4 linked regions of the Homo sapiens genome follow. The protein of the gene in region 1 purifies or fractionates together with the protein of each later gene. This does not show direct contact. Each region holds a gene or a part of one and is shown in the gene's direction. Other genes may lie near its edges. The genes, in order: SPMIP6, DCTN6, NIF3L1 and MMADHC.

Evidence for each region.
Region 2: the proteins of SPMIP6 (region 1) and DCTN6 purify together in Homo sapiens (affinity purification with mass spectrometry; 3 studies listed by BioGRID and IntAct, with this or other methods). This does not show direct contact.
Region 3: the proteins of SPMIP6 (region 1) and NIF3L1 purify together in Homo sapiens (affinity purification with mass spectrometry; 3 studies listed by BioGRID and IntAct, with this or other methods). This does not show direct contact.
Region 4: the proteins of SPMIP6 (region 1) and MMADHC purify together in Homo sapiens (affinity purification with mass spectrometry; 3 studies listed by BioGRID and IntAct, with this or other methods). This does not show direct contact.

What each region holds. Positions count from the first base shown.
Region 1 is NC_000009.12:34,394,739-34,402,806, reverse strand, and holds the start of SPMIP6 (sperm microtubule inner protein 6), read left to right. Parts: upstream 1-4,996; 5' UTR 4,997-5,173; coding exon 5,174-5,308; intron 5,309-6,472; exon of another isoform or gene 6,473-8,068. Other genes in the region: protein FAM219A, read left to right, coding at 1-102, 340-420, 1,087-1,141, 1,685-1,843. UniProt on the Homo sapiens protein: May participate in intramanchette transport and midpiece formation of the sperm tail. May play a potential role in somatic cell proliferation.
Region 2 is NC_000008.11:30,173,304-30,180,886, forward strand, and holds part of DCTN6 (dynactin subunit 6), read left to right. Parts: intron 1-1,781; coding exon 1,782-1,887; intron 1,888-3,822; coding exon 3,823-3,911; intron 3,912-6,104; coding exon 6,105-6,152; intron 6,153-7,184; coding exon 7,185-7,327; intron 7,328-7,583. UniProt on the Homo sapiens protein: Part of the dynactin complex that activates the molecular motor dynein for ultra-processive transport along microtubules.
Region 3 is NC_000002.12:200,885,271-200,892,953, forward strand, and holds the start of NIF3L1 (NIF3-like protein 1), read left to right. Parts: upstream 1-4,100; 5' UTR 4,101-4,382; exon of another isoform or gene 4,383-6,647; 5' UTR 6,648-6,673; coding exon 6,674-7,109; intron 7,110-7,683. Other genes in the region: PPIL3 (peptidyl-prolyl cis-trans isomerase-like 3), read right to left, coding at 1-97, 428-502, 2,343-2,345. UniProt on the Homo sapiens protein: May function as a transcriptional corepressor through its interaction with COPS2, negatively regulating the expression of genes involved in neuronal differentiation.
Region 4 is NC_000002.12:149,584,434-149,592,795, reverse strand, and holds the start of MMADHC (cobalamin trafficking protein CblD), read left to right. Parts: upstream 1-5,020; 5' UTR 5,021-5,132; exon of another isoform or gene 5,133-5,438; intron 5,439-5,646; 5' UTR 5,647-5,698; coding exon 5,699-5,707; intron 5,708-8,362. UniProt on the Homo sapiens protein: Involved in cobalamin metabolism and trafficking. Plays a role in regulating the biosynthesis and the proportion of two coenzymes, methylcob(III)alamin (MeCbl) and 5'-deoxyadenosylcobalamin (AdoCbl). Promotes oxidation of cob(II)alamin bound to MMACHC.

The sequences.
Region 1 (8,068 bases):
GAAGCAGCGGGAGCTGGCCCGGAAGGGCTCCCTGAAGAATGGCAGCATGGGTAGCCCTGTCAACCAGCAACCCAAGAAGAACAATGTCATGGCCCGAACAAGGTAGAGGCCCTCCCTACCCCACCTGGACCCTGCCAGCCAGGACCTATTTCTGCTGGTCCTGAGCCTCCCCCTCTTCCCTCCCTCCTCAGGCCCAGCTCCTCTCTGAGAGGAGACAGCCTTAACAGGATCCAAGGTGGGGAGGGAGGGAAGAAAGTGGTGGGACGGGGCCCAACCCAGTCCCTTGCCAGGTTTCTATGCTCCACTTTGCCACTCTAACTCCCGAAATTCTTCACCTAGGCTGGTCGTCCCCAATAAAGGCTACTCCTCACTTGACCAGAGCCCTGATGAGAAGCCACTGGTAGCCCTTGACACGGACAGGTGTGTATGGGGGCTTGGGGGTAGCTGGGCAGCCCAAAGGAACCTGTATAGCACAAGTGGGCTGTACAGGCCACACCTGCTATATTGTCAGAATTGGGATATTCTTCAGCCAGAATCTCTCCAAGGGTGAATTCTCCAGGGATGGGAATTTTTTTACACCAGGGACTGGGGGTTGAAGAGAGGTGGCAGAGAGAGGAAAGGGGGGCCTGCGTTGTCTGCTGTCATCCTGGGACAACTGATCCAATGGTTGTCCCTAATTGGCCTGTGATGTTGTCTCTGGACAGCAGAATATGATGCTTAATGCCCCATCCCCTCAGGAAGGAGCCCTACTCCCTGGAAAACACCTGGCTAGACTTGGACTTTGGGAATATCCTACAAGTCAGGGTGATTTGAGTCTACAAAAAAAAAAAAAAAGATGAGAAGGGGGTGAAAGGAGTAACTGCTATATTTAGAAGGAGGTTAAGGATAGCAATTGATTTTAAGGGTGGGGCTAGGGAACTTGTCTTTAAAATCCTGCATTTGCACAGCAAGCACAGTTCGTATTGAGATTTTGCTATTTGGAACTGTAAGGGAGGTATAGGATGCTGCCTAATGGGAGGTGGGATTGCAGAGAGTTTTCTATGTAATTTCTTGGTATCACTTTCCCTCTCTTTCCTCCATGGCCAGCGATGATGACTTTGACATGTCTAGATACTCCTCCTCCGGCTACTCCTCTGCTGAGGTGAGCCCCTACCCCTTCTCACCCTAGACACCACCGGGCAGGATCACTGCCATCCCGGGGGAGGGCTGGGGCCAATGCCCAAGTACAAGGAAAAAGAGGGCTGGGCAAGGCTGGGTGGTGCCCTGCACAGGGTGGGCCTGGGATAGGATGGAAGAGAAGTGGTTACTGGCCTCAAGTGCATGGAGCCCAGGGTTAGGAGTGGGGCTTTAGATTGCAGCAGGCCATTTAAATAGAATGGGTGTAAAATACAGGTGATATCCTCTAGTAGCCGGCCTGAGATAGGGGCAAAACCCGAATAGGAGCAGGACCAGAGGTGTGAAGTTGACCATAGAATGGGGAGGGGTGACTAGAAAGAGAGGCCAGAGGCGAAGGAGGGCGCCTAGGCAGGAGCGGGGCCTGGGGGTACAGACAGACCCGGGACAGGGCGGGGCTGATATCCAGGGCACTGGCTGGACTGGGGCGCAGACGGCCTGGAGTGGCCGCAGAGCTGTGGGTGGTGCCTCCCTGCCGCTCGGGCCTGACCTCCCTCCCCTTTGCCTACAGCAGATCAACCAAGATTTGAACATCCAGCTGCTGAAGGACGGCTACCGGTTAGATGAGATCCCCGACGACGAGGACCTAGACCTCATCCCCCCCAAGTCCGTGAACCCCACGTGCATGTGCTGCCAGGCCACGTCCTCCACCGCCTGCCACATTCAGTAGCGGGCGGGGCCACTGCGGTCGCCGGGGCGGGGCCGCCAAGGGCCGGGTAGGACGGGCAGAGGCCGACCCCTTCCCAGCTCGTCTGCCTGCCCCCGGCCCCGCGCCCCTACAGCCGCCAACCTCGTATAACAGTCATTGCTTCCTCCTATGGTAGGACGTGTACCTCTGTGTGTTCATGGAGCTGGAGAAACCAAAACTGGGTCTCTCTCCACCCGGGAGCTGAGGAGGGGTGGGGGCCGTTTGTTCAGTTACCTGGGGGAACCTCACCCAGCACCCTGCCCCGCTTCCCAGGGCTGGCCAAGAGAGAAGACTGGACGGCAGGGAGGTCAACATTAACGAGTGGGGGGATCACAAAGCCAGGGGCTTGGCCCCACCCCAGCGAAGCCATGAACTCCCAAGCCCCGGCCTCAGCCTAACCAGGAAAGGGGCTCGGAGGGAGAAAGGCCCAGGGCAGTGGGGACGGGTCCCAGCACCTCGGAGCCCCCTTCACACGCCCCCTACCGGCCCATGTTTCTATTTGCATTTCCCCCTCCTCAGATGGGAAGCCTGGCAAAGCTGCCCAACCGGGTAGTGCCCCTCACCCATCGGATCACTGCCTTCTTCCTCCTCTTGCCCCATTCACCCGCTTCCTTGCACTCTGGGAGTGGGGCAGGGTAAGGTGGGCCTTACAGACAGGCTGAGGTTTGGGTGGTGTGATCTGTCCTAATTGGCCCCTCACCAATGCATCTATCTGTCTGCCACCAGCCCACCCCACCCTGCCCCCACCCTCACCCACGCTTCTGCTCATTGGTCTCAATCCCAGCCTGGAAGCAGGGAGTAAGGCTGGACTCCAATGGCCCATTCCCCTCACCCCAGCCCAAGACGTGGGAGGCTGCTTCCCAGTAAGAATCCAGGAGCAAGCTTTGGTGAATCCAGTGGGCTGAGTGGCTCTATGGATGTGGTTGTTTGGATGTGGTAGGGAGTGCTTAGCAGAATGTGTGTGTATCTCTGAGGCTGTCAGGGGGTGGGTGGGTGTGTGTCTCTGTTGGACCTGTCTCTCCTCAGTCTATTCCTGTCATAGATGTGGGTGTCCCTGGTAGGGAAGTGCCTGTGTGGTCTGTTTACAGTGCAGAAGGCGGCTCAGCAGTGCAATGGGCTGACAGCCTTGGACCGGGAGTCAGAAGCCTGGGTTCTGGTTGTAGCTCTGGCCCCTCCCTGTGATCTTCAACAAGCCACTTGCTTTCTCTCGTCTTCAGTTTCCTCAACTAGAAAATGAACAGCAGCTGAAATTATGTTGAAGATCCTTTTATACCTGAAAGAGTTTCTTCATAGAAATTTCTGTGGTGGGGAGGGGGCAATCTCTGTGTGTCTCAGTATACCTAAAGGTTGGGGTGGGGCGGAGTTGTGTGTCTCTGTAGAAAGGCGAAGGGGCAGTTCCTATCAGGACTGTGTATGTCTGAGCACATGTGGCTCTGTTTGGGATTACGTGTTTGTCTGTGAATGTGTGTGTGTGTTGGAGGGTTGTCTATTGTGTGTGGCTGTATAGGGTGTCTGTAGATCAAGATGTGTATACAGCTGCTTCTGCTATTGCTGGTTTGGGGGAGGGGACTGGAAAGCTGAGACTGAAAATCAAGAGGGAAGAGGTGAGGAAGGCCCACCCCTGGGGCTGGGCAGTGTAGACCTGCCACCGTGTGAAGAAAAATGAAAGCACAGATAGCCTAAGACTGCACAGGCCTGTGCCCACATACCTTATAGCACAGGCCCAGGTGGATCATCTCATGCTAACACCCCACATGTGCTGGTGGATCCACTCCCATGGATCCACTCACATGCTGCAGGCATGCAGTAGACTCACCCACAGCCCACTCTCTGGACACCAATCCTGGGAGGTGGGAGCTGGAATGGGGAGCAATGAGAGGAGGGAGTGAGACTGTTGGCTTAGGAAGGGTGGTACCTCTCCCTGCATCATACCCAGGAACTGCCAGCTCCAAAATATTGGGGTACAGCTCACCACCCCCCACTCCGCCAACCCATTCCTACCTCCTCTAGTGCAGGGACCCAAGTTAGATGATGAGAAAATGCCAAACAAAGGGAGGCAAGGACAGAGAAGGTACCTGCAGGACCCACAAGGCCCATACTGGCCCCCATCTGAACCCACCTCTCCCACCCAGATCAACATCCCCCCAACCCCTGTGCCCCCATCATCTGGACCCCAGAGCCAGCCCTCCCACTACCACCACCACCACCCCGGGGCTCCTTGGCTCACCTTTCTAGAACATGGGTACCTCCTCTTTTTGGGGGCTCATTTAGACTGCTGCCTTTGCTGCTGACTTGCAGTGTGACTCGGGCCCATTGTTCAATCTCTGTGGCCCTGAGACACCAGGGAAAATCTCCCCCCCCACAGGACATACTAGTTCCCTGGCAGGCAAGGGCTTCCAACTGAGGCAGTGCATGTGTGGCAGAGAGAGGCAGGAAGCTGGCAGTGGCAGCTTCTGTGTCTAGGGAGGGGTGTGGCTCCCTCCTTCCCTGTCTGGGAGGTTGGAGGGAAGAATCTAGGCCTTAGCTTGCCCTCCTGCCACCCTTCCCCTTGTAGATACTGCCTTAACACTCCCTCCTCTCTCAGCTGTGGCTGCCACCCAGCCAGGTTTCTCCGTGCTCACTAATTTATTTCCAGGAAGGTGTGTGGAAGACATGAGCCGTGTATAATATTTTTTTTAACATTTTCATTGCAGTATTGACCATCATCCTTGGTTGTGTATCGTGTAACACAAATAATGATATTAAAAGCATCAAACAAGCCAGCCTCAGCTCCCTCCCTGGGGTGTGGGCAAGGGGCAGATGGGCTGGGAAGCAGACAGAACTGGTCCTCTGGGCACACATGTTACTCCACCTCCACCTGTGGGTTCCCAGGCATGCCACTGACCTGCTGCATGACCCTGGGTGAGTCACAACCCCTCCGAACCTCTGTTTCTCTTCAACAGTGAGAAACCTGACCTAGAAGATCTCCAGAGGCCCTCTGAACTCTTAGAAATTGGGCTCTTTTGATAGGCTTGAGGCAGGAGGGGGTCAGGAGCAGGGAGGGAATTAGACCTCCTCACCTTCCCAGGGATGGGGCTGAGCCAGGTGATATCACAATGGGCAGTGCCCATCCTGGAGGGGGCATCAGTGTGGGGTGGGAGCAGGAAGGCTGTTGGGGAAGGAAGCTGAGAGATCCTCTGCAGGAGGGGATTATAGCAGCTAAGGGCACCTGCCAGGCTGGAGGTGTGGCCTGTCTAGGGGAAGGGTGGTCACTGATGTCCAGCAGGAGCCCTTGACAGGTAGAGCCCACCACGGCATCTCCAAGACCACACCATGTTCCTGTTCTCCCGTAAGACCAGGACCCCTATCAGTACCTACAGTGACTCCTACAGGGCTCCCACCTCCATCAAGGAGGTCTATAAGGACCCACCCCTGTGTGCCTGGGAAGCCAACAAGTTTCTGACTCCGGTAAGTGGGAGATTGGTGGGGAGGGGCAGGCCAGAGTGTATGGCCAGTCTGGATGCCTGGCAATGTATGTTTGTAATGATTTGTAGCTTTGTGTATGTGTGTGTTTTATTCATTTACCTAGGCACAGAATTTACAATGGTATGTAAAACAGCACAAAATCCTGCCTTCATGGAATTACATTAGGGTAGGAGGTAGGAACAGGCAGATAATAAGAAATAAACATGAGTTTTATAAATTCTTCAAAAATACTGTAAAGGAAATAAACAGAGTAGTGGAAGTGGAAATGGAAAGGGAGGGCTACTTAGGTCATGGAAAACCCTCTCTCAAGGTGACAATAAACTGAGACTGGAAAGATGAGATAGAACTAGCCACATGAAGACCTGAAAGAATAGAAGAGCTGAAAGTTCCAGACAAGTGATCACAAAGTGCAAAGGCCCTGAGGCTGCCTGTGGAATAGGCCGGAAACTGTCCTATATGCATGCCTTTATCTATATGTATCACAGTTTACTTGTGTCTGTGCTTGAAGATTGGTGGCCAGGTGGGAGGAAATCTGTGAGTCTAACTGTGACTCTGCCTAAGAGAATTTATCTGTGTGTACCATCCAACTTTGCTGAGTATCTTCATCTGTAGGCAACCCAGGATACAAAAGGGAAGGGCCAGCCCTTGCCTTTGAGGAGCTCACAGCAAACAAGTGAACAAAGTAGAGTTGCCCGATGTGGAACATGCACCAGCAGAGGTGGAGAGCCAGAAAGGGGAGAGCGCTGCCCAACCTGAAGGGCAGACCTACTGAGGGATCCAGGAGGAGGAGGCTTCCAGCAGAAGACAGTCAGGAGAAAAGGCAGCCTGTGGGCAGGGACCTACCAGAAACTGAAACTGTTAGAGCAGGAGAGTTTAGTCCTTGGGTGAGAGAGGAGTCTGCAGACCAAGAAGGGCCTCTCTGGCTATGTTGTGGAGCGTGGACATAAGGCTCCAGGTTTTTGAACCTGGGAGGGAGAGTCATGGTTCAATTGTGAGTTAGGCCACTCTGGCCACAGTGTCAGGGAATTGCAGGGGCTGGGGTTGAGGGCAGGAAGGCCAGCGAGGGGTGAACAGATGAGGAAGGAGGATGTAGGTGGGAGATAAGGAGATTGTCACAATGAAAAAAGGAATTCGTTGAATAGGAGAGAATTTTTAAAATAATTTATTTTGTCTAACTCCAAAATAAATATACGCTGAATGTAGAAAATGCAGATAACTCAGAGAAGCACAAAGAAAAAAGGTCTAAAATCCTACTACCTAAAATTACCATTGTTAATATATTATCGTATGCCCTTTCAGGAAGCAAATATTGTTTATTATAAAAATAAATAAAATTTATTACAAAATGGTGTATTTAAGGAATCTTATTGAAAATTTAGGTACTTTATAAAATTTTGCTAGTATAATCATTCTTATACATGTATCTTTGTACACATTTCCAATTATTCCCTTAGGATAAATTACTAGACATGAAATTGTTAGGAGAAAAGATATACACATTTTTAAAACTTTTGCTATATACCTCAAATTGCCATAATAAGTAAGGGTTGTAACAATTTACATTTCCACAAGCAAAATATGAGAGTGCCTGACTCCATACTCAATAGAAGGGAATTTTAAAAAGTAGATGAACAGATTTTGGTCACCATATGGATGGTAAGGTGAGAGATTAGGGTGACCCTTGAGTTTTTGGCTGTGGCAGCTGGAGGAATGCTAATGCTATCAACTGAGGTTTGGAATAACAGATTAGAGATTTGGAGTTCATTTGAGAACAAAAATATTTGAGGATATCCAGGAAAAGATGTTTGGCAAGTAGTTAGATATACTTATCTGAAGCAAAGGAAAGAGGTCTGGGTTATAGATAGAGATCTTGAAGTCATCATCATATAAATGGTGGGTGAAGTCATAGGAAGAGATGAAATTGCCAAAGAAGAGAGAGAAAATGGCCAAGGACATAACTTTGGAGAATATAAATATTTAAGGGTAGGTAAAGGAAAAAAAGCCATAAAAGAAGACAGAGAATTATTGCCAGAGAACTAGGAGGAAAATCAAAGATAAACCAATAAAGACAGCATTATTAGACAAAGATCAGTGTCAAGTGTTAGTGACAGAGAAATCTCTCGGATGTAGTAACTCTTGGTAACTTAGCCAGACAGCTTCAATGAATGGCGAGGAGTGAAAGTCAGATAGCAGTGGTATTAAGAATGAAGGAAAAGCCAGGCATGGTGTCTCAGGCCAGTAATCCAAGCACTTTGGGAGGTTGAAGCAGACAGGAAGATTGCTTGAGCCTACGAGTTCAAGACCAGCCTGGGCATCATGGTGAAATCCTGTCTCTACCAAAAATACAAAGATTAGCCAGGTGCAGTGGCATGTGCCCATAGTCCCAGCTACTCGGGAGGCTGAGATAGAATCACTTGAGCCCAGGAGGTTGAGGCTGCAGTGAGCCTTGATCACACCACTTTACTCCAGCCTGGATGACAGAGCGAGGCCCTGTCTCTTAAAAAAAAAAAAAAAGAATGAAGGAAAAGCTGCTGCTTTTGGCAGTATGGTGGTCTAGAAACTCTGAAGGGCCCTGTTGCTTCAAAACAACTTAAGTTCTGAATAAAAATTAATTTTTATTTTGTGTTGGAGTCTCATGGAGATGAGTGGTAAGTATAGTTAAGAAGACAGGATTGTCCTGAGGACAAATGCCATTATTAGCACTATAAACAGGCATTTAAGCCTTAAACTAGCTGAAAGATA
Region 2 (7,583 bases), on another chromosome or scaffold:
GAATGAGTGTATATTAAGCATTCCCAGTTTTCAAGATAACAAGTTCAAAAGGACAAAAATAACATGTATTTATTTTTGTTGCCCCATAACATATAGTGAGGCATCTCAGCTGTCACAGGCAGATAATAATTATGAATTGACAATTTATATCATTAGGTGGGGCACAGTGGCTCACGCCTGTAATCCCAGCATTTTGGGAGGCTGAGGCAGGAGGATTTCTTGAGGCCAAGTGTTCAAGACAAGCCTGGGCAACATAGTGAGACCCCATCTCTAAAAATTAGCTGGATGTGGTGGCATGTGCCTGTAGTTCCAGTGATTCAAGAGGCTGAGGCAGGAGGATTGCTTGAGCCCAGGAATTGAAGGCTGGAGGGAGTTATGATCACACTACTACACTCCAGCCTGGGTGACAGAATGAGACCCTGTCTCTTAAAAAAAAAAAAAAAAAAAAAAACCAGTTTACACAATTGAATACTGAATTTCTTTCCTAATCCCCCACCCCCTCTATCAACACTTCTGTCCACCCTCCCTTACTTTCAGAGTCAGTTACTTCATCTGCACTTGTTTACCCATAAAAATTGCCTTGGTATTGAGGGGTACGTGGGATGGATATTGGAGAGAGCCTAAAGGAGGCTATGTTTTCTCATCAGTGGTTTCATTATCACCAGAACCCTCAGCCTGTGGTAGATAAAGCTGGGAGGGAGTATGTTAGCATTCCAGGCTCAGGGCGGGGTAGACCGTGCTGGTGAAGTGGGAGTAATGAGGGCCCTGGCTGTTCCCTTCAATTCGAGACTAGAGGCATCGCCTCAGGGCTCCCCACGCCAAAGTCCTCGGACTCCAGTGATCACCTTTGGGTCCTTCTGCTGCCTCCCTTTAACCTTTTCAGCTTTCACTGGTTTAAATCATATCCTGGGCCAGACAGCAGAAGCTGTGCCACCTTTCAGTAGGTGTGCTTGTAATAGGGACACTGACAGAGGAACAAAGCTGTTAGATCCCATAATTTCTGACTTCTGTCCACCCATATTTCTCCTTTTTTTTTTTTCTTTTTTTGAGACAGGGTCTTGCTCTGTCACCCAGGCTGGAGTACAGTGGCATGATCTCAGCTCACTGTAGCCTTTGCTTCCTGTGTTCACATGATTCTCCTGCCTCAGCCTCCCAAGTAGCTGGGACTACAGGCGCACATACCATCATGCCTGGCTAATTTTAGTATTTTTTGGTACAGATGGGGTTTCGCCATGTTGGTCAGGCTGGTCTCGATCTCCTGACCTTAAGCGATCTCCCCGCCTTGGCCTCCACATTTCTTCTCAATTATGTAATAAAAAGACTAATTCGGAGGTACACTCGCATAAGAAAGCAGAACAGCTTAAGCAAAGAGAGTGTTACCTTGCTGAGGGAAAAGAAGGAATTAATTTTTATTGCCACCTTTGTGTCACATGCTGTGTCTCCAGCATTATCGCCCCTAGCCCTTACAGCAACCCTGTGGGACTGGTGTTGTCATCACCTCTGTTTCACCGCTGAGATCACAGGAAGCTTCCGAGTGGAGGCTGAGCCAGAGCTGTCTGGCTCTAGTGCCTGTGCCATTCCACTCACATTGGCTTGCAACTTGGCCCTGACTACTGATGATAAAGCCTGGGAGATAGTATCTGTGAAGTACCTAGCTTGGTGCCTGGCACATACTTAGAAAATGTTCCTCCCAACAGCCTCACCCATCCTCAGTCACCTTCCACCCTTCTGTTGGAAGCATAGCCTCCACCAATAATTTCTTCTCAAACTATTTTTAACAGGACCTCGGACAGTGATCCACCCTAAAGCAAGAATTATTGCGGAAGCCGGGCCAATAGTGATTGGCGAAGGGAACCTAATAGAAGAACAGGCCCTTATCATAAATGCGTAAGACTCTTATACATACTGTGAACCAAGTACCATGGGTAACGGTTTTTCTTAATTTCAGCTGTCTGTAAGAACCTTTTCAGCTGACATCCAGGAGGCCTACTATTTTAGAGCTAGAGAAGCATTAAGGGTCTTTTTCAACATAAGTAAATGAGCAAACCAAATACCATATGAGGGAAAAGACTTGTCCAAGATGAGAGAGCTGAGTAGCTGCCTAGAATCTTTGACGCTCGGTCTGGTGATCTTCCCCTTACATGTGGCTATCTCACCCATTCCTTAAGCAAACATTTCCCGAACACTTCAAGCCTCCAAGTGCTGTGCCCACCACCCTGCAGAGTTTTTTTTTTTTTTGATTTTTTGGTTGTAGCTGAAATGTTATTACTCATGCCTAAACACGTGAATTTAACTCAAATATATTTTTTCACATGTTTTGCACAGGTGACACCCAGAATTATAGTTGAAAAATGTGGAGTCTTAGAGGCAATTTTTAAACTGTAAAGATTAAAAATAATAAAATACTAGAACATGTGCATGATCTGAGTGAACTAGACTGTAATACGTATGAATTTTTCATAAACATAAGTTCTTTCTAGATAAAATTTTGGGAAGGAATTCAAGCTTATACCTAATTTATAGCAACCATGTATGGAATTTGTAAGAAAGACCTTGGGAAAATATTTAACTGTCAGAAAAAGACTGATTTAATGCTTACTTAGGATTTAAAATACATTTGGCACCTTCAGTGTAAGTCAATTAACAGCAACTATATTCTGCAGTAACTCAACTGTCAGAGATAAAGCACCATTTAAAAATGGCGTCCACCTCTTAGAACACAAACATTTTATCTTCCAAATATTTCAACTAGCTAACTAATAGCAATAATTATTTTATGTGAATATCTGTTTATGTTTCACAATCCCAAATGATTATTAAGGGTGGAAAATTTTCAAGTTAGGCATGATTTTGGTTCTAATTAACAGCCTAAAAAGATAGCTAGCATCTTCTTTCCTTTGTCCTGGAGAAGACCCACTGGACTTTGAATTTAAAAAATAAAGTAGGCTGGGCGTGGTGCCTCATGCCTGTAATCCCAGCACTTTGGGAGGCCGAGGCGGGCAGATCACGAGGTCAGGAGTTCAAGACCAGCCTGACCAATATGGTGAAACCCCGTCTCTACTGAAAATACAAAAAAAAATTAGCCGGGCGTGGTGGCACCCCACCTTGTAGTCCCAGCTACTTGGGAGGCTGAGGCAGGAGAATCGCTTGAAGCTGGGAGGTGGAGGTTGCAGTGAGCCAAGATCGTGCCACTGCACTCCAGCTTGGGGGACACAGCAAGACTCCGTCTCAAAAAAAAATAAAAAATAAAAAAATCAAATAAACTAAGGAAGGCTATTCTTTTCCACACACCAATGACTTCTTCACTTTTCAGTAGCTCTCTTCAACTCAAAATCAAGCCTTCTCTAGCACACAGGATGAATGAATCACTTGAATTAAGAAATAACTTACATAGGCTGGGCGTGGTGGCTCATGTCTGTAATCTCAGCACTTGGGGAGGCCCTAGCTGGTGGATCACCTGAGATCAGTTCGAGACCAGCCTGGGCAACATGGTGAAACCCCATCTCCACAAAAATACAAAAATTAGCCAGGCCTAGTGGCACGTGCCTGTAGTCCCAGCTACTCGGGAGGCTGAGGCAGGAGAATCTCTTGAACCCGGGAGACGGAGGTTGCAGTGATCCAAGATGGTGCCACTGTACCAGCCTGGGTGATAGAGTGAGATTCCATATCAAAAAAGAAAGAAAAAAAGAAATAACTTATATAGTCATGTCTTTTAAGCTTGATGTAGGTAAAATTGAAAGAATTAACCCAAATTCGAAAATGGGAAGAAAATTGCTTATTGTGTTATTGACTTTTTGGATGATTTGTTTCTTCTGTTTACAGTTACCCAGATAATATCACTCCTGACACTGAAGATCCAGAACCAAAACCTATGATCATTGGCACCAATAATGTGTTTGAAGTTGGCTGTTGTATCCTTTACAATAATCTACCATAAATAATTCCTGGCTCTCCTTTAGTACCTAAGTCTTCTCCTGTAGAAATTGTAAATAATTCCTGGCTCTCCTTTAGTACCTAAGTCTTCTCCTGTAGAAATTGTAAAATTGTCATAATTTATCTATCAAACATACTTACATTCACAATATATATTATAATTACATTTTTAAAAGTAGGTCATCCAGGCTGGGTGCGGTGGCTCATGCCTGTAAATCCCAGCACTGTGGGAGGCCGAAGCTGGCGGATCACTTGAGGCCAGGAGTTCAAGACCAGCCTGGCCAACATGGTGAAACCCCATCTCTACTATTAAAAAAAAAAATTACAAGAATTAGCTGGGCACGGTGGTGCACGCCTGAAATTCCAGTTACTTGGGAGGCTGAGGCAAGAGAATCGCTTGAACTCGGGAGGCAGAGGTTGCAGTGAGCCAAGATTGTGCCACTGCACTCCAGCCTGGGTGACAGAGCAAGACTCCTTCTCAAAAGAGAATAAAAATAAAAATAAATAAAAGTAGGTCATCTAGCTCTTTGAACAGACTTCTTGAATAGTATATATTTTAAAAATGGTCCCTTCTGTTCCTGTAAATAAGTCAATAGAGTAAAATAAGTATGCCGTTTTTAGACAAACGCAGACACACACATATCTTTAGCTCAGCACTTTGAAAGAAACCACTTCTTTTGCTGGTACTACAGCTTGTTGACAGGTAGCAATGGCTGAGTGACAGTAAACATAGAAGCAGCAATGCTGGCTTCCTTCTTGATTCAAGAACCCCAGCTTTGTCAGTGTGGTTCCTCTGTAGTTTTAGGTAGACAATGCATTGTCTGATTCAAGAAAATGGTGTGTAGGGGTGAAAATATTCCATTATTCATGTGTTGTCTTTTTTCCTCCCTAGAATGTCTCCAGTTCTTTTGCTTAGTTTAGTACTCTAAAAAGATAGTAAAATCAGGGCAGGCACCGTGGTTCATGTCCGTAATCCCAGCATTTTGGGAGGCCGAGGCGGGCAGATCACCTGAGGTTGGGAGTTTGAGGCCAGCCTGACCAACGTGGAGAAACCCCGTCTCTACTAAAAATACAAAATTAGCCGGGCGTGATGGTACATGCCTGTAATCCCAGCTACTCGGGAGGCTGAGGCAGGAGAATCACTTGAACCCAGGAGGCGGAGATTGCGGTGAGCTGAGATCGCGCCATTGCACCCCAGCCTGGGCAATGAGCGAAACTCCGTCTCAAAAAGATTAAAAAAAAAAAAAAAAAAAAGATAGTAAAATCTTATGGTGTCAGCAAAACATACTATAGTAGAAAATATTTAGAAGGAAAAATCTAAATGTTCAATGATAGCAAGATATTTAAATAAATTGAACTATGAGCATAAAACCACTAGGAGCATTAAGCAGTCATTTAAAGTTATGTTTTTAAAGATTTTTTTTTTATTTTATCTTTTCTGAGACAGGCTCTTGCTCTGTCACCCAGGCTGGCATTGCAGTGGCACAATCATAGCTTACTGCAGCCTCAGCTCCCAGACTCAAGCAATCCTTCCATCTCAGCCTCCCAAGTAGCTGGAATTATAGGTGCACACCACCGTGCCCAGCTAATTTTATTTTTGGTAGAGATGGTGTCTCACTCTGTTGCCCAGGCTGGTCCTTGAACCCCTAGGCTCAAGCAATCCTCCCACCTTGGCCTCCCAGAGTGCTGGGGTTACAGATGTGAGCCACCCTGCCTGGCCTAAAGATTTTAATAGCGTGGAATAATGCTTGCAAATTTAAGTGAACTGAATAAGCTATAAAAGTTTATACAGTTTGATTCCCACTTATATACAGGAAATTCTATATATTTATATAAAGATATATCAAACTTTTAACAGTGTTTAAGTGATTGGGTGATGGATAGTTTTAATTATCTTGAAACAATTATGAAAATATTTTACTCATAAAATCAGGGTATAAGGTGCTCATTTCTTTAAAAACACAAGTCATTTATTTATACCTAGAGATACTTATGTTTAAAGATTAAACCGTTACCACAGATTGCCCAGAGCAAAGAGTTCTGGCAAGGGTGAGCCTGCATGGCCCATCTGACACCCCTGTCCTCTGTCCCAGTGCAATGTAAGTACATACTGTGTTAGTGGGGACTAAAGATGAACATATTTGTAGTATTTACCTAACTCTGGCTTACAGATTCCCAAGCCATGAAGATGGGAGATAATAATGTCATTGAATCAAAAGGTAAGCTACATTCAGAGTTTCATTGTCAAAGCAGTGACCTCTTTTCTCTTTGTGGTGTCCTGGGAAACAACCTAATAGAAACTGTGGCAAGGTGTTGTGCTTGGAAGTGGGCTACAATAGCTGGCGAACTAATTGTTTGCCACTAAGGAACCTAATCTGGTTATGTGGTTATCTGGTAATGTTAAATACATTAAATTTAAAATCAGCTATGTACAGGATTGAATTAAACCATAAACTTTAAATGAAAGATTTGGAAAAGATTTCTACTAAATACTAGTCTCTGAAATTTTAGTTGGTTAGTGTTGTTGTAGAATTAAAGGGGGGGAAAAATCAAAGTTTCTGTAGCAGTTGTTTTCTTTAATTTCAGGAATACTTTTCCCTAGCCAATCAGAAACAAATATCATGTGCTTGTAAGTGGGACCAGACAGGAGATTACCTAAAGTCACTGTCACTACTGGGAAGCAACTTCAAGAGCTTGTCCCACCAAGGTCCAGAAAAAACCTGAATGATGACAATTCTTTAGAATAGTGGGTTATCTTTCTTGGTCCTGAGTGGCACGAAAGAAAATGCTTCTTTTTAAAATAATAAAATTACACTTTTTGTTAATCTACTTAATGACTTTTATTTTAATTTGGATTATCAATTATCACTATTATCATCAGCATTTTCTATTTATTTTATGCTTACTGTGTGTCAAACCTGTGCTCATCACTTTACATCTGTTATCACATTTATTCCTTAAACTGTGAAGTAGAGTGGCCTCTTTGTTTTATAGATGAACTTGAGCTTAGAGACTTTGCAGCGACTTTCCCAAGGTCACACAAATAGCAGCAGAGCTCCATTTTGAATTCATCTGACCCTGGCTTGTACTGCCTGCCTCTGTGTTGTCCATACAAACTCCAAACTGATGTATTTTCTTTAACTTTTTTCTTGAGGCCAGTTTACATTTTTATACCTAAATCACCTTAAGAAAAAAAGTGTTGGAATCATTTGATGTCTTAAGTTGCAGTTCTTTCTGTGTTTTTATTGCAGCATATGTAGGCAGAAATGTAATATTGACAAGTGGCTGCATCATTGGGGCTTGTTGCAACCTAAATACATTTGAAGTCATCCCTGAGAATACGGTGATCTATGGTGCAGACTGCCTTCGTCGGGTGCAGACTGAGCGACCGCAGGTACTAGAACCTCTCTTTAAAAAGAGTTCTATCTGCTGATTTTCCCAAAATACAATGTAATTGTCTTCATGAGGCAGCAGGTACACTATTTAAGAACATAATTAAAATAAAACAAAAGATGCCAGTCTCAGTGACTCGTGCCTGGAATTCTAGCACTTTGGGAGGCCGAGGCAGGAGGATGACTTGAGGGCAGGAATTTAAGAGCAGCCTGGGCAACATAGTGAGACTCTGTCTCTACAAACACTAGAAAAACTAA
Region 3 (7,683 bases), on another chromosome or scaffold:
TGAGGCAGAAGACTTGCTTGAACCCAGGAGGCGGAGGTTGCAGTGAGCCGAGATCGCGCCATTGTACTCCAGCCTGGGGGACACAGCGAGACTCCATCTCAAAAAAAAATAATAATAAATAAATAAAAAAAAAGAAAGAAAAAAGTAATATAATGTCCTAATGATTACGTTTCCTGAAGAAAATTAGTTCAAAAGAAAAAGATACTGGCTACTCTATCGTTACCGAAAAATTATCTACGTTCTCTTTGATCCACCTTTGACATTGGACAAATAAGTGGAAATCAGGCCAGAAGTTAGGATGGCTAGTTTTCCCTAACAATGGTTTTACAGAAAGTTTTGTTGTTGTTATTTAGGTTAGATTATTCAATTCCAAAGTGCTTATCTTGTTGTATTAACTGATGTTGAATATGTAAATAATAGTACTTACCTCACATGTTTTGGGTGTCCTCTCACAGAAGACTTCAATTTTAATATCACCTACATCTGTATGCAGTGTCACAGACTAAAAAGGAGAGAAAATGTGAGAACAAATGAAATTTATTTAGGTGACTTTATGCATTGTTTATTTCCCTGTGTGGATATTCAAGATGATAATCTGAATAAAAACAGACAGAAATACTGCTTCAGAGATGACCCATCCACAAAGCAGCTCTTAGAGGTTAAGTTGTACTTTTTTCTCAAAATTGATCCCAACAGTAGAGAAAAAACTCCAGAATATAAATGTTAGGGTTAAGTAGTATCCATGACAAAAATTTGGAAGTAAATATTTTGATGGAAAGAATTATTTTAACTTTGAATTTTTTATCAAGAAAAATAAAAACAATTGTTATGTATTATTGATGTACATGGCAATTCACCAACATCCTTATTTATAGAAAAATGATGAGAAAATGATTTTTCAAAACATAATTTCCACCATTTTCCTTAGGTAATTTAATTCTGAGAAATAGGGTTAAAAAATAATTCCTTTCTCGACTAACAAAAATATAACAAGTGTCAGTGTTTCTAAATCTTAAATGTGCAGAGATAACCACAGTGCTTTCTTGCTTGCTTTTTGTTTTTGTTGTACCTGTTTTTCTGTAACCTGTATACCCCTTGATATGATACTGTATTCCAGAGAGGGAGAAAACAATTTGGAGGGTTCCTTTTTCATTTCTCCTTTTTTTTTTTTTTGAGGTGGAGTCTTGCTCTGTCGCCCACACTGGAGTGCAGTGGCGTGATCTCGGCTCACTACAATCTCCACCTCCTGCGTTCAAGCAATTCTCCTGCCTCAGCCTCCCAAGTAGCTGGGATTACTGGGATATGCCACAACACCCAGATAATTTTTGTATTTTTAGTAGAGACAGGGTTTCACCATGTTGGCCAGGCTGGTCTCGAACTCCTGACCTCAAGTGATTGGCCCACCTCTGCCTCCCAAAGTGCCGAGATTACAGGCGTGAGCCACCGCGCCTGGCCTAGCAGTTAGAGAGTATGAGCAGGTTAAAGATGTGTGTGGGAGAAGCAGGGCACTATTCTCATTGCCTTTTTCTACTTCAGGTTCTAGTTGCCCACTTTATTTAATTGTTTTTTTAAAAGTAGAGACGGGGGCCTCACTGTGTTGCCCAAGCTGGTGTTGAACTCCTGGGATCAAGCAGTCCTCTCACCTCCGCCTCCCAAAGTGCTGGGATCACAGGTGTCAGCCACTGTGCCCAGCCTAGTTGCCCACTTTAGATCTAGAGCAAAATAATCCAATTAAAATTGTCAGACCTGTCTATTCTCTTCTGCTCCTTCAACTCTCCCTTTCCATTTCTATCTATCTTGTAATCAATCTTTCTCCATAAAAGGTAAATTCTGGCTGGGCGAGTTGGCTCACGCCTGTAATTCCAACACTTTGGGAGGTCAAGGCAGGCAGATCACCTGAGGTCAGGAGTTCGAGACCAGTCTGCCCAAAATGGCGAAACCCCATCTCTACTAAAAATACAAAAAATTAGCTGGGCGTGGTGGCAGGCGCGTGTAATCTCAGCTACCGGGGAGGCTAAGGCAGGAGAATCGCTTGAACCCAGGGGCAGAGGCTGCAGTGAGCCGAGATTACACCACTGCACTCCAGCCTGGGAGACAAGAGTGAAACTCAAAAAAAAAAAAAAAAAAAAAGGTAAATTCTGTGCATTTTAAGTGACAACATTAAAGAATTTTAAAGCAATTTTGTGTATTTTTTAAAAGAATTATTCCATATTAAGTGCTTCTATATTATACAATTTCTCCATCTTGCCACTGCAATTTCCATGAACTTTTATTGCCCTTGACTGAATTTCTAAAAATTACTTATAATGAAAGACATTAGATAAAAATTGCTCAAAACTTACCATTTTTCCTCTTAGTGGTTTCAGGAAGGACTACGTGATTTCTCAGTCTTACAGCGAGCTCAAAAATAAGTCTCTAGTCCCAAAAGAAAAAAAGAATTAGGCTCATTTTCCTGTCTTAACTCACACACGCTCATCTTTACTGAACATTTTAAATAAAAACCTCGCCGGGCGTGGTGGCTCACGCCTATAATCCTAACACTTTGGGAGGCCGAGGCGGGTGGATCACTTGAGGTCAGGAGTTCGAGACCAGCCTGGCCAACATGGCGAAACCCCGTCTCTACTAAAAACACAAAAATTAGCCGGGTGTGGTGGCAGGCGCCTGTAGTCCTAGCTACTCAGCAGGCTGCGGCAGGAGAATCACTTGAACCCAGGAGGCGGAGGCTGCAGTGAGCTGAGATCGCGCCACTGCACTCCAGCCTGGGTGACAGCGCGAGACTCCGTCAAAAAAAAAAAAAAAAAAAATCCTCTAATGGCATCCCCTAGGTAATAAAAACCCGGCTATAGAAGATATCCTACCCGATTCAAGCCTCCCAATCTCCTACTTGCCCGGCTTGCTCTTCTTCAAGAGCCTCCTTGCAAGTCCCCCAATAACCCAGATACCTTCCCTTAGGGTCCAGGCATTGGGTGTCCCTTTTGCCTGGAATTCTTATACTCAGACATCTCTACGGCTAATTTCCTCACCTCCAAATTTCTGCTTAAATGTCAAGTTTAACTGACCTGACAATCCTACACAGAACTGCTTTAGCCCTTCAGCCCTAGGACATTCCTATTTCCTTCTCCCACAGCACTTATCACTAATATACTATGAAATTCGCTTTTTTTTTTTTTCACCACAGCACTTATACTAATATACTATGAACTTTTTTTTTTCCACCACAGCACTTATCACTAATATACTATGAACTTCTCTTTTTTTTTCATTTTGAGACGGAGTCTCGCTATGTCGCCAGGCTGGAGTGCAGTGCGGCAGGATCTCGGCTCACTGCAACCTCCGCCTCCGCCTCCCGGGTTCAAGTGATTGTCGTGTCTCAGCCTCCCGAGTAGGTGGGACTACAGGCGCGCGCTACCATGCACGACTAATTTTTGTATTTTTAGTAGAGACGGGGTTTCGCCGTGTTGGCCAGGCTGGTCTCGAACTCCTGACTTCAGGTGATCCGCCCGCCTCGGCCTCCCGAAGTGCTGGGAGGCCGCCGTGCAGGGTCCTTCTTTTACTCTGACGTTGCAACAACAGCCTCGCCGCCCACTGTTCACTCGCAGTATCCCAAGAACTAAACCAGTAGCAACACAGAACTCAGCAAGCATTCGAATAAGTGAATGAAAGAATTAATGACGTTACTCCATACTTGGGCTTCACCACTTCGTCTAGCACAGCCGTTGTTAAAACAGGAAAAATGCAATCGCAGATGCCAGCAGAGGTCTGTTGGTTCAAAATTATAGTTTCTTTGGGCCAGCGGAAGTTGGGCGCGGGACCCAAGAGAGAGAACGCCCCTTACCGCCTCACCTCCTTCCTCCCCTCATCTTCCTATCTCAAACCAAAACGACAATGCAATTTATCCCCAACCGGAAATTTGACAGTGAAAGGGAGCTCTACTAATAATTGCACTGGGACAAGAAGTGTAAGGCGAAACTACCTGGGCAACCTCAAGCAATGCTTTACACTCGGCTGCCAAACGGAAAGGACCACTTCCGCCCAGCTCTCCCGCTACGGGGAGCCAAGTGCCACAGCATCCGGAGCGCCGACGCGGGACCGGAAGTGACGCAGAGAAGTTTCCGGGACTGGTGAGTAGTGGGCGATTTAAAAACCCGCGAGTGTAGTTGTGACCTTCGCGGTAGGTGCCGGTTGGGGCCGGCTGTGATTGTTATCTTGGTGCTGCAGAGGACAGCAGAAGAGGAGATTGGGTCAGAAAACTGCCCTGCCGCACCAGAGCACAGCGCACTAGTGGGACAGGGGTCCTGACTCAGACTTAACTGGCTGTGTCTCGTGGTTTTTCACTGTCCTGGAAAAGGCCTGAAGTGGCACTGAAATGAGGCATAGATGAGGTAACGTCGAGGGAGCGGTTTGCAGGTTGCAAAGGGGCCCTACTGATGCTGCTTAATAGTAAACAGTGCTTACTCTAGGACGGGAGTTGTTTCCAGCTTTACGTGTAAATCTCGCGATATTGTGGCCTGGGCACTATTTCCATTAAGGAGGAAACTGCACAGGATAAGTCATTTACCTGCTGTTGCACAGCTCTGGCTCTAGGATTCAGGCTGGCTTCAGAGTCGGTGCTCTTAACCGCCATACTATGTTGCCTTCTGTTGTCGTTGTTGACTGTGGCCATGTAGCTTCGCAGTTTCCTCATCTGTAACAGTAAATAACTCAAAACCTGCATGATGGCCCACTAGGGTTTCACTTTCGAGCTTGCCAGATGTAGAAAATGCTGGAGAATGGAGTACTATGAGGACCATTAGAAGATCTTTCAAGGCCGGACGCAGTGGCTCACCCCTGTAATCCCGGTACTCTTGGAGGCCGAGGCAGGTGGATCACTTGAGCGCAGGAGTTTGAGACCAGCCTGGGCAACATGGCGAATCCCCATCTCTACTAAAAATACAAAAATTAGCCAGGTGTGGTGTTTAGCGCCTGTAGTCCCAGCTGCTCAGGAGGCTGAGGTGGGAGGATCTGCTTGAGCTCAGGAAGTCGAGGCTGCAGTGAGCTGAGATCACGCCACTGCACTCCAGCCTAGGCGCCTAGTGAAACCCTGTGTCAAAAAGAAAAAAACAAAAACAAACTTCCAAGACCTCGAGTGGTTTTTGGAGACCCTGTATCACTTCAAATAATGTGTTAAACAAGCATCTTCATCTCATTAAATAGAAATGTTGAAAAATTGCTTTTGGAATAATTGACTTATGGATATTTCATCAAATTTACAGTTGGCTATGCTTTCTTATTGTGCATACTATGAAATGTTTTTCTTCAAAAAGTGTTTATAAGTGGTAAGTTTAAGAATGGGGTTGACAGCATTATCTTTTGTGGTTATTTGATTAAACATTTACTAATTGTGCATATTTTGGAGCCAGCAGTTTTTTTCTACCTTTCCATTGCCCTCCCACCTTCCCTCTGTTGCCAACCTTTTCAGTTCCTTGTTGGATGTAGATACTTAGAAGGCTTACAGGCTGTCTGGGAAAAGTACCCTATACCTTATCCCCTCCCACCTCTTGAGCCTGGCCTTTGTGTAGCAAATGTTGCTTAAGGGGCAGTGGCTTCTCCCTTCTTCTGCCTTGACCCTGCCCATTTATAGAGTGACCTGCCTATGTATTCCTTGATTTTTGATTCTGATAAAGCACTTGACATTTTAAACATTCTTTTTTTTTTTTTTTTTCTTTTTGAGACGGAGTGTTGCTCTCTCGCCAGGCTGGAGTGCTGTGGCATGATCTTGGCTCACTGCAACCTCCGCCTCCCAGGTTCAAGTGATTCTCCTGCGTCAGCCTCCCGAGTAGCTGGGACTACAGGTGCACACCACCATGCCCAGCTAATTTTTGTATTTTTAGTAGAGACGGTTTCACCACGTTGGCCAGGATAGTCTTTATCTCTTGACTTTGTGATCCTCCCGCCTCGGCCTCCCAAAGTGCTGGGATTACAGGCGCCCCGCCACATTATTCTGTTTTTTGGTAAAGCACATTGTAATGCCAGTATATACCACCCCAACTCCAAATTCTGTTGCAATCAGGGGAGGCGGGCAGTGTCATTCTATGCAGTAAGCATTTAGTGCTGGCTTATATTAGTGATACTGAGATTTATTGAAGTTAGTTCCTATTACATAGTAGCTTTAGCATAATGGGCACACACAGAATTATGAGAATACTGAGGGGTGGGGAGCCTTGGGAAGGATGCTGAAAAGGGAGGTCAAGAAAAGTTTTATTTAAGAAGTTGGAGGGGGCTTGGGAAAAGGAAAGGTAATATTTAGAGAAATGGATTAGGGAGGAGGTTGGTTGAAGCAAGGGTAGGGAGAATAAGAACAAGGGTGTGCAAGGCAGGAGATGGGATGGACGTTTGTGTATTATGTACCAGGCTTTGCTAGGTTACATAATTCATTAGCTCCTCTGGATGGCCTGTGAAGTGGGTTATAGTATCTCTGTTTCGTAGGTGAGAAAACAAGATTGGAGAGGTTAAATGGCTTACCTAAGTTACAGTGTGCTGGTAAGTGGCAGAGCCACTATTTGAACCCAGATCTCTATGACGACAGCTCTTTTGCCCATATGTTTTGATGCCTCAAAGATCCAGGCCTAAAGTATACCTGTGTACCATTTTCTTTGTTTTGACATCAGAAACTTGAACTTTACCTGATTTCTGTATGTTGTCATCTTGCGTACGCCCAGTCCCCACGACAGTCCGGTTTGTAGATTCCCTGATCTGCAATTCTTCCCGTTCCTTCATGGATTTGAAGGCTCTCCTTTCTTCCTTGAATGACTTTGCATCCCTCTCGTTTGCTGAGAGTTGGGACAATGTTGGATTACTGGTGGAACCAAGCCCACCACATACTGTAAATACACTCTTCCTGACCAATGACCTGACTGAGGAAGTGATGGAGGAGGTGCTGCAAAAGAAGGCAGACCTCATTCTCTCCTACCATCCGCCTATCTTCCGACCCATGAAGCGCATAACCTGGAACACATGGAAGGAGCGCCTGGTGATCCGGGCTCTGGAGAACAGAGTCGGTATCTACTCTCCTCATACAGCCTATGATGCTGCGCCCCAGGGCGTCAACAACTGGTTGGCTAAAGGGCTTGGTGAGAAGCCTCTTTCATATTTGATATTTTCCCTGCAAATACTTTGAAACTTTAGGATGTCTTTCCAGTAAAGTTTTAACTGCTTTAGGGTTGGGGAGGGCATGATTCCATTTTTATATAATAATTTTAAAATAATGTTGCTGAAATTTGGCAGTTAAATTGCATTTGAAAAAGGAAACATTTTTTATTCTTATGGAGTAAGGAGAGCAGAAGTCTTCCTTACTGGACTGAGCTTCATGATTCCTCACTTTTGTGGCACAATGCCTGTCACCCAGGCACTTGGAAAATGCTTGTTGAATTGAAAGCTCAGGCCTCTCCAGAATACACTTGATTGATAAGTCAAGTAAATAGACATCAGGGTTTTAATGAATGTTTTTAGTGAATGTTTACTTATGCCTAGCACAATGAGGGAATGATGGATGGATTTTAGCTTTATTTTAGTAAGTCTTTAGTTTACTCATTTTGGGCTAAAGCTTTTATGATGATATCTGGATTAATGTGGTCAAATAAAGTATGAGCATTTGCAACCTGAATGATGGTTTACATGGCTAGATTTACCAAGCAGTAGACCATT
Region 4 (8,362 bases), on another chromosome or scaffold:
CAGTGCACTCCAGCCTGGGTGTCAGAGCAAGACTCTGTCAAAAAAAAAAAAATCTCAAATCTTGATCTCTCAGACAAGCCACTTTCTTGAGCAATAGACCTTTCAAATGACTTCTTGGACAAAAACCCACATGAATGCTCTCAGGCATCTTAAATTAAAATTCAAAATTCAAACTAAGCATATTATCATTCTCCTTAAATTTGCTTTCCTCTTGGGAGGAAGTATCCTATGAAAAAGGGAATACTAGTTTTAAACCAAACAGATTCAGATTTAAATCCAGCCCCAGAAGCTTCAGTAATATATTTCCTCTTTTTGCTTTCATTTTTTCATTTATGATATGAAGATAATAATACCTCAATTTTCTGCATTATTGAGGATTAAAATAGATATTGAAAAAATGCCTATCCAAGTGCCTGCCACGTAGGATATATTATACAAATATCCACTTTTTACTGGATTCCCAATCTCAGTAAAAGGAACCCCATTCGCCAAATATCCTGAATCAAAAATTTAGAAGTTGAAGATTCAACTTGTCCTCTTTTCCTCATCAGCAACCCATGGATAGCTATGTCATGTTGATTCCTTAACGCTCCCCTTCCCTTAGTTCAGGCTCTTTGTGTTCTTCCTCATGGATACTACAAGAGTCTCCTAACTGCTTGATCCAATTGCTGCCCAACACCCTTCCAATCTATTCTCTGTGCTGTAGCCAGAAGATCTTCCCAAGACACAAATCTGATAATGGCATGACTGCTTAAATCTGCCCACTTACTTTTCATTGCTTCCAGGATTACATCCGCCTTAGTATTGCACTGAAGATCAATTATGATCTGATCCCCATCTACCTCCAACTCAGTTCCTTGAACTAGCTGTGGATCTCTCAAACTGCCCACAGTCTTTTGGATTCTATTCCTCTATTCATTTTGCTTCCTTTGCCTGAAATGTTCTCAACCCCCTACATTTCTTCTGGCCACAAGATGATGAAGCACACGGGCCCTCAGAAGATTCTAGCATATACTCTTGGACTTCCAGCTCCATAACCATGACCTAAATAAATTTCTTTATAAATTAGTCAGTCTGTGGGATTATGTTGTTATTTTATAACAATATAAAATAGACTAAGACAATGACTTAGCTAGAAATGTCAGATTCAAGAATCCAATCAGGGCCATATGGTGTTAGTCTATACCTGTACCATTACATACAACATTCTGCCTTTATAGAACAGCATCAGTAGTGGTGGTAGAGGTCTTCAGGCTGGTAACTCCTGGACATACTTAGTTTGGAAGGATAATCTAGAATTCTCTCTTCAAATTTAGAATTTCTCCTCAACTCTAGTTTCCTATCACTAATGTTTGCAAAGTAAAGGTCTCAAATCACCAGCTTCTTTGGCACTTTTCTGCTCTCTTCATCACTAAACAACTTGACACCCACAGACTTTAACTAGGAATCACGAAGTCACAACAGAGAAAGAGAGCTCCCACCCCTTCCTTGGTTGTGCCTTATATCTAGCATTTTCTGTAAGAAAATATGCAGCTCTCTTTCAATTTCACATCTCAGAAATTGAAAGAGAGTCTGATGACTTTAGTAATTGGCCCACTTTTGGAGCAACAAATTCCCAGCATAAAAAAGCATCTATTAAAGAAAAACACAATTTGAAGTCAAAATTTTTGACTTCCATCCCACTACTGACCAGCTGTCTCCTACTATGTATAGGAAAAGAGGAAATAAATGTACAACATGAGAATTCTGGGGCAGGGATAATTTCCTAAGGTTAAGGTTTTTTGAGATATCAGATGGTTTCCAAGGAAAGTCCTAGAATTTCTTCCCTGGATATCCTTAACAAAGACATTCCAAGATACTCTCCTTTATCTGCGATTGAGTATTCATTGATTTGAACAGCTGCAGGAGTGTCAGCCTGTGATTCATAAAGCCTACTAATTTGGACATTACCAATTTGTAGTAATCAGACAGGAGTGGAATGAAGTTTGCTCTATGTTATCAACATAGAAGAGCATTTCTTAAATTAACTATATATATGATTGTGGGGAAGATGCTCAAATAACCTAGCAGAACTATTTTCACATATCTTATAAAAATACAATTGCCAGCAATTGTGCTTCTAGATATTTACTCAACTGACTTGAAACATGTTCACAGAAAAACCTGCACTTAAATACTTAATACCAGCTTTATTCACAATTGTCAAAAACTGGAAGAATCACAATGTTCTTTAATAAGTATAAATGGTGGTACATCTATACATTAGAATACTATTCAGGGATCAAAAAGACAGAAATAAAGACCAGGCCTGGAGGCTCATACCTGTAATACTAATGCTTTGTGAGCTGACGTGGGAGGATCCCTTGAGGCCAGAAGTTTGAGGCCCCCTTCTCTACAAAAAAGTTTTTACAATTAGTGAAGCATGATGGTGTGCACCTGTAGTCCCAGCTACGTGGGAAGCTGAGGCAGGAGGATTGCTTGAGCCCAGGAATTTGAGGTTACAGTGAGCTATGATCGTGCCACTGGACTGCAGCCTGGGCAACAGAGCTATCAGACCCTGTCTTAAAAAAGAATCCATAAAAAGACAGGAATGAACTGTTATGCCACACAAAAACATGGATGAATCTTAAATGCAGCTATTACTATGTGAAGAAAATGAGTCTGAAAATGCTACATGCTGTATTATTCCATTTCTATGTCATTCTGGAAAAGTCAAAATTATAGAGATGGTAAACACATCAGTGGTTGCTAGAGGTATAGGAAGGTGGGAGGGTTTAATACTAGATGAAACAAAGGGGATCTTTTTAGAACTACAACTTTTCTGTATGACACTCTAATAATGGTGGATCCATGACACTATGTATGGATTTGTCAAACCCCATAGAAAGAAAATTTGAAGTTAAAAAAATTTTTACTTCTATCCCACTACTGACCAGCTGTCTGCTATTATGTACAGGAAAAGAAAAAAATAAATGTGCATTATGAGGATTGCACAAACAGAACCTAAACGGAGGAAGATTTTTTAAAAAATCTTAGGAACTCAAAGAATCCCAGGAGTAATGCAGATTGTGGCAAAAGATTACAACTGTATTACGAGCATATAAAATAACTTCACTGAGGCCGGGTAGAGGTAGGAGGGAGGGCTGCTGACTTCAGTAACTTTGAAAATAAGTGGAATCTATAAGATTAAAAGCAAAAGAACTATACATAAGCATTGTACTCTAATTGGTAAATCTGTTTCTCACAGGTATACCTGATAACAGTTCAGAAACAACTATACATGTACTCTGAATACGGGTTGACGGTTCTGAATCCATTATACACGTAACCTGGAATTGAACAATTAGGTAAATGGATGGCAGATGATGAGAGCCAGGTGTCTCACACTGGAGTGGAAGGCTACAGACAAGCAAGGGGAGAAGGCTGCAATGATCCATATGGTGCTGGAATTGAACTGAAGATAACAGCTCTAGTATTTGAACCTAGAACGCCTGTGTAGCTGTCAAAGATACAGATGGATACATATATAAATACTTACAGATATGCGTATTTAGTCAGGTTAGCATATCCACAAATATTTCCTTGCTCTGTCAGCTGAGAGTGTCTAGAAGCAACAACATCCCAAATGTCCAAATCTTGATTTCTAATATCATTTTCCATTAAAAGTACCCTTGGCTTTTTGGGGAAGCAGCTGATTCTAGGATTGGGGCAGGGAATATACAAGATGAGCCTGGAGCAACTTATAGAAATTAAGAAAATGCTCAAGAAAAAAAATCAATAAACATAAAACGAGGAGGGTTTGTCAAAAAGACACAAATGCCAACTAAAGGAAATCTCAATAGCCAAAGCTGGAACCAATATGAACAACAAAATAAAGTAGTATTGGATTATAACCCAAAATGTAAAATAAATATCCATGAGTCCATACTGACATAAATGATTGAATACATAAATAAATGCAGTACAGACAAATCTCCCATGCAGAAGAATTCCAAATAATTCATGAAGATATTCTGTCCTCATAAAGGTGGAGTATAACAATTTCCCATTCCTATAGTTTGGGCTGCACAGAGAGATGTCCTTCCAAATAGTATAGTATGGAGAGGAAAAGAAAAACAGTAACTTCACAGTGGAGAAACCTGACAAACCCTACATAGGGAGGTGGAAGGGCTTACTAGATGAAACAAAGGGGATCTTTGTAGAACTATAAAACTTTTCTGTATGACACTGTAATAATGGTGATAAAGGTTAGCATCAACAGTAATAAGTCATGTTGATAGTATATACCCTTGATGTGATGTGATGAGAAGATCACTTTACCTTACCTCTTAACTCAAGAAAAACCCATAACCTCAGTTAATGCATGAGAAAAATACAGGCAAAACCCAATTGAAGGACATTTGACCAAATGACCAATAAGTCGCTTCAAAACTATTAAGGTTATCAAAAACAAGGAAAGTTTGAGAAACGGTCACGGTCCAGAGGAGCCTGGAAGACATGGTGATGTACTCCGGACAGGATCCTGGAATGGAAAAGAATACCAGGTCGAAAACTAAGGACATCTGGAATAAAATATGGGCTTATGGGCTTTAATCAATTTTTAAAAAAGTATTAGATACATGAAAATGATACACGATTTACAAATCAATCGCCTAATATTTATCGAGCATATTGAGAGCCTGGCACTGTGGTAGGGCTGGGGACACAGAAAGAGGTAAGTGCCCTATGCTCAAAAACAGCGATTCATGAAAAATAAACAACTATGACAAAAAGAACAGAAGACTGTATCTCCTGGAGGCAGTAAGGAAGGCTTAAGTTGGGAGGACTATCAAACGCATCAAGGAGTTACTGAAGATTAACTGACCCGCCTAACGCAGGTCGGAAGCCCTCCTATCCATCCACCCAAATCACCCCTGCCCCACCTTTTCTCCTCCCTTGCGTTTACCCAATGGCAGGTCGGCTCCACGTAGGCCTACTTTGCGCGTGCGCATCATCGTTTCGACGCGCTCGGAAGCAACTTCCTTTGCCTGCTCACCGCCAGCGTAGGTGCTACCACCGCTGCCGTCGCCGCCGCCATTTTGATGGCAGGAAGAGTCCGGTTCTGGGACAGCTGGAGACAGTGGTGGTGACTGGTACGGATGGTTTCCGCCCATGTTAGCCCCTCCAAATTTGCCCGTGTTAGGGTTACAGCCCTCGGTATTGCCCGTATTTTCACTGGGTCCCTGTCGTTGTCCCCAGCCATCCTGTCCGTCTGTCTTTAGTCTCTTTTCTGCTTCCTCATCTTTCCGATCAGCCTGAAGCTTTGCTTGGAGCTGTTGTTACGCAGCCCCAACTTCTGTTAAAGCAGCCGCTTCGATCCTCTGGACTGAATTTTGGCCACCCAGCCCCCATTCCCCTCCCGGATCTGGTCCGAGTTGTTTTTCCGCGGCTGTAAACCGGAAGGGCTCTGAGCTGCACTGCCGGCTCCGGGCTGGGGGATCTGTGCCTGGCATGGGGGCGAGTTCTGGCCTCCTTAGGGTACGGGGAGAGCTTGGACTTTGGTCCTGACGTGGTGGACGACACACCTTCGAAGAGTGGACGTTACCTCAGTTGTCTGTTGTTAGAGTTTAATCGATCACTCGTCTGTTTTGTTGTGTTCTTTCCCAGAAATAACTTTACCAAAGGAAAGCTATTTTGCGAACTATCTTCTCCAGCGGAGATGGCCAATGTGAGTAAATTATCTCTTAAGAATCAGCATAGTAAACTCGTTTGGGAATGTTAGGAATGAAAGAACGGGTTTAATTATGATGGCATTGGGTGGTATAGTGTTAGATATAATGTATCAAAAATGTCAAGGGAAGCAAGTGGTGTGAAATTATGTTATGCTTTGAAGATGGTAGCATTCTTTGCACTGCAAATACACTTATTTATACAATTTCATTTGTACAGATGTGGAAATTCAAGCACCCTTTCGGTATTTTTTAAATACAGCGTTTCAGTAAATATTAGAATCTATGTTTAGGCCCTTTTTTAGCTTTTGGGTTAGCTAAACTGAAGGGTTTTTTTAATCTTTTTTTCTTTTTTTTAAAACAGTTTCCATATTGGAAGTGACCTTCTAAATCCTACAAAATAAGAATAGGAGATACTCTCACACACCAGAGATATTTATTGACTGTAACTTTGCAGTGATTAGACACATCCTATCTATAGAATTCATATGTAGCGGTCATAAGACATATATAAAAACAGCTACAATTAAAGTATAAAGTAATAATTTTTTTTAGAACCTACACGAAGGTGCAATGCAGATTCAAGTCTTTGTGGAGAGGAGTTTGGGATCACTTCATGAGGGAAACATTTAACTTGAGGTTTGAAAGATAGGTGGGATTTGTATAGTCTAAAATATGAGCGGGAAGGACAGGAAGGTATATTCAAAGAACTCCCCAACCCGCCTACCCCTTTGAAAAACTGAAAAGTGACTGCTGCCTGCCAACCTGAATGTAAGCTGCATGAAAGAGATAAGTGGGAGATAAGGTTGAATTGTGAGGTTGGTACCAAGTAAATGAGAGCCTTGAATGCCGAACTCAGTAATTTAGACTTCATTCTTTAAATTGTGATTATTCACTTAGAGCTGTGTGCTAGGAAGATTTATATGGCAGCATTTAGCCAGGATGCTATTTCTGTAATTGAACATGGTATATTAAGTCTAAAGTGTGACTATAGAGACAAGTCATAAGAATAGATTACTAGTCTTGGCCAAGTTCTATGGTGAATTTTTGCCTGCCCATAACCTGCACAGAAAGAGAATGCTGTAAAAGAAGTATGTGGTACTTTCAAAGGAGAGAAATTAATTGAAGTAGAATAGAATGCTATTATTTGACCTGGTTTTATTTTGGTTTAAATGAATAAATTATAATAGTTCAGTAGGGAAGATCCTTTTATAAGTCTTTTGTTAGAAAGAAGTTCATATTAAAATAAATTTAAGTTTCAGTATCCAAATGTACGATAACAATTTTTGTGTTAATTTATATGGATTGTAAATTGTGGATGGATGTTACTAATGAAATATGCAGATAGTGTTTCATAACAAGGGGCAAGAATGTTCATGTTTCAGAGTCTAGACAGGTACATTAAGAAGCCTTCATGGGGACTGTGACAAAGCCTTTCTGAACAAAGGGGAGCAACCTTTCCTTAGCTACAGTGATTTGTTGCTAACTAATGCCATTTGGTTATGTGAATCCAATACTGCCAGATCTTCTGAGTTTTCAAGAAGAGCCAAATTTCTGGACCTTTTGTGTAAATATTGCGATTTCTCAATGTTTGTATTTAATTCAAATATCTTGCAACACTGTGGGATGCACAAAAATGTCTGGATAGATGTGGATGCACTACATAAACTACCAGTTTTTAGTTTTTGTACAGACCATATTTTTTCCTCACATGATCAAAAGCAGAACTTAGTCCTAAGGCAGTGCACAAAAGGCACTTTCTCTTTATATACTAATAAGGATTTTACAGTTAAAACATAATAGCATGTCATCTTCCCAAGTCTAGAAGTTTGAATTTAATCATATATAAAATAAATGCTTTTCCTCAAACTAGAATGAACTCTCTGCTGTAATTTTGACTTGCTTTTTGGCTATTATTTTTAATTATGTTCACCAGCTGAACCAGTCATAAAATCTGTCAAGTTGTCAGAAAATATTCCACTTCCACAATTACAATTACAGATTTGTTTTTCTTCTTTTTTTTCTTTTTTCTTTTTTTTTTTTTTGAGACGGAGTTTCACTCTTGTTTCCCAGGCCGGAGTGCAATGGCGGGATCTCTGCTCACTGAAATCCTGGCTCCTGGGTTCAAGTAATTCTCCTGCCTCAGCCTCCTAAGTAGCTGGGATTATAGGCACTTGCCACGATGCCCGGCTAATTGGCTTTTTTTGTATTTTTAGTAGAAACGGGGTTTCACCATGTTGGCCAGGCTAGACCTCAGGTAATCCACCCACCTTCGCCTCCCTAAGTGCTGGGATTACAGGCATGAGCCACTGCACCCAGCCAAGATTTGAGAATCTCACAGGTTAACGGGTAAGGTTTGAAACAGATTAGTACTATCATCAACTGTCGCTTTCAGTGGGCAATTTAGATACTGGTTTATTTTGCTATTAAAATGAAATTTGGTAATTGGATTTTCTTAGGCTAGGAACAAAACTCATATTTTATTATATAACTTTTGTTAAAAGTTCTATCACCAAGAAAAGAATGTCAAAATATAATCTAATGGCCTTGATAGACAGGCTAAAATAATAAATAATAGGCGATTTTTGAAATAATTTGGATGATCTTCCTCCTCCTTCTGTTTTTTGCTTGTGAAACGATGTGAATGATCGCAG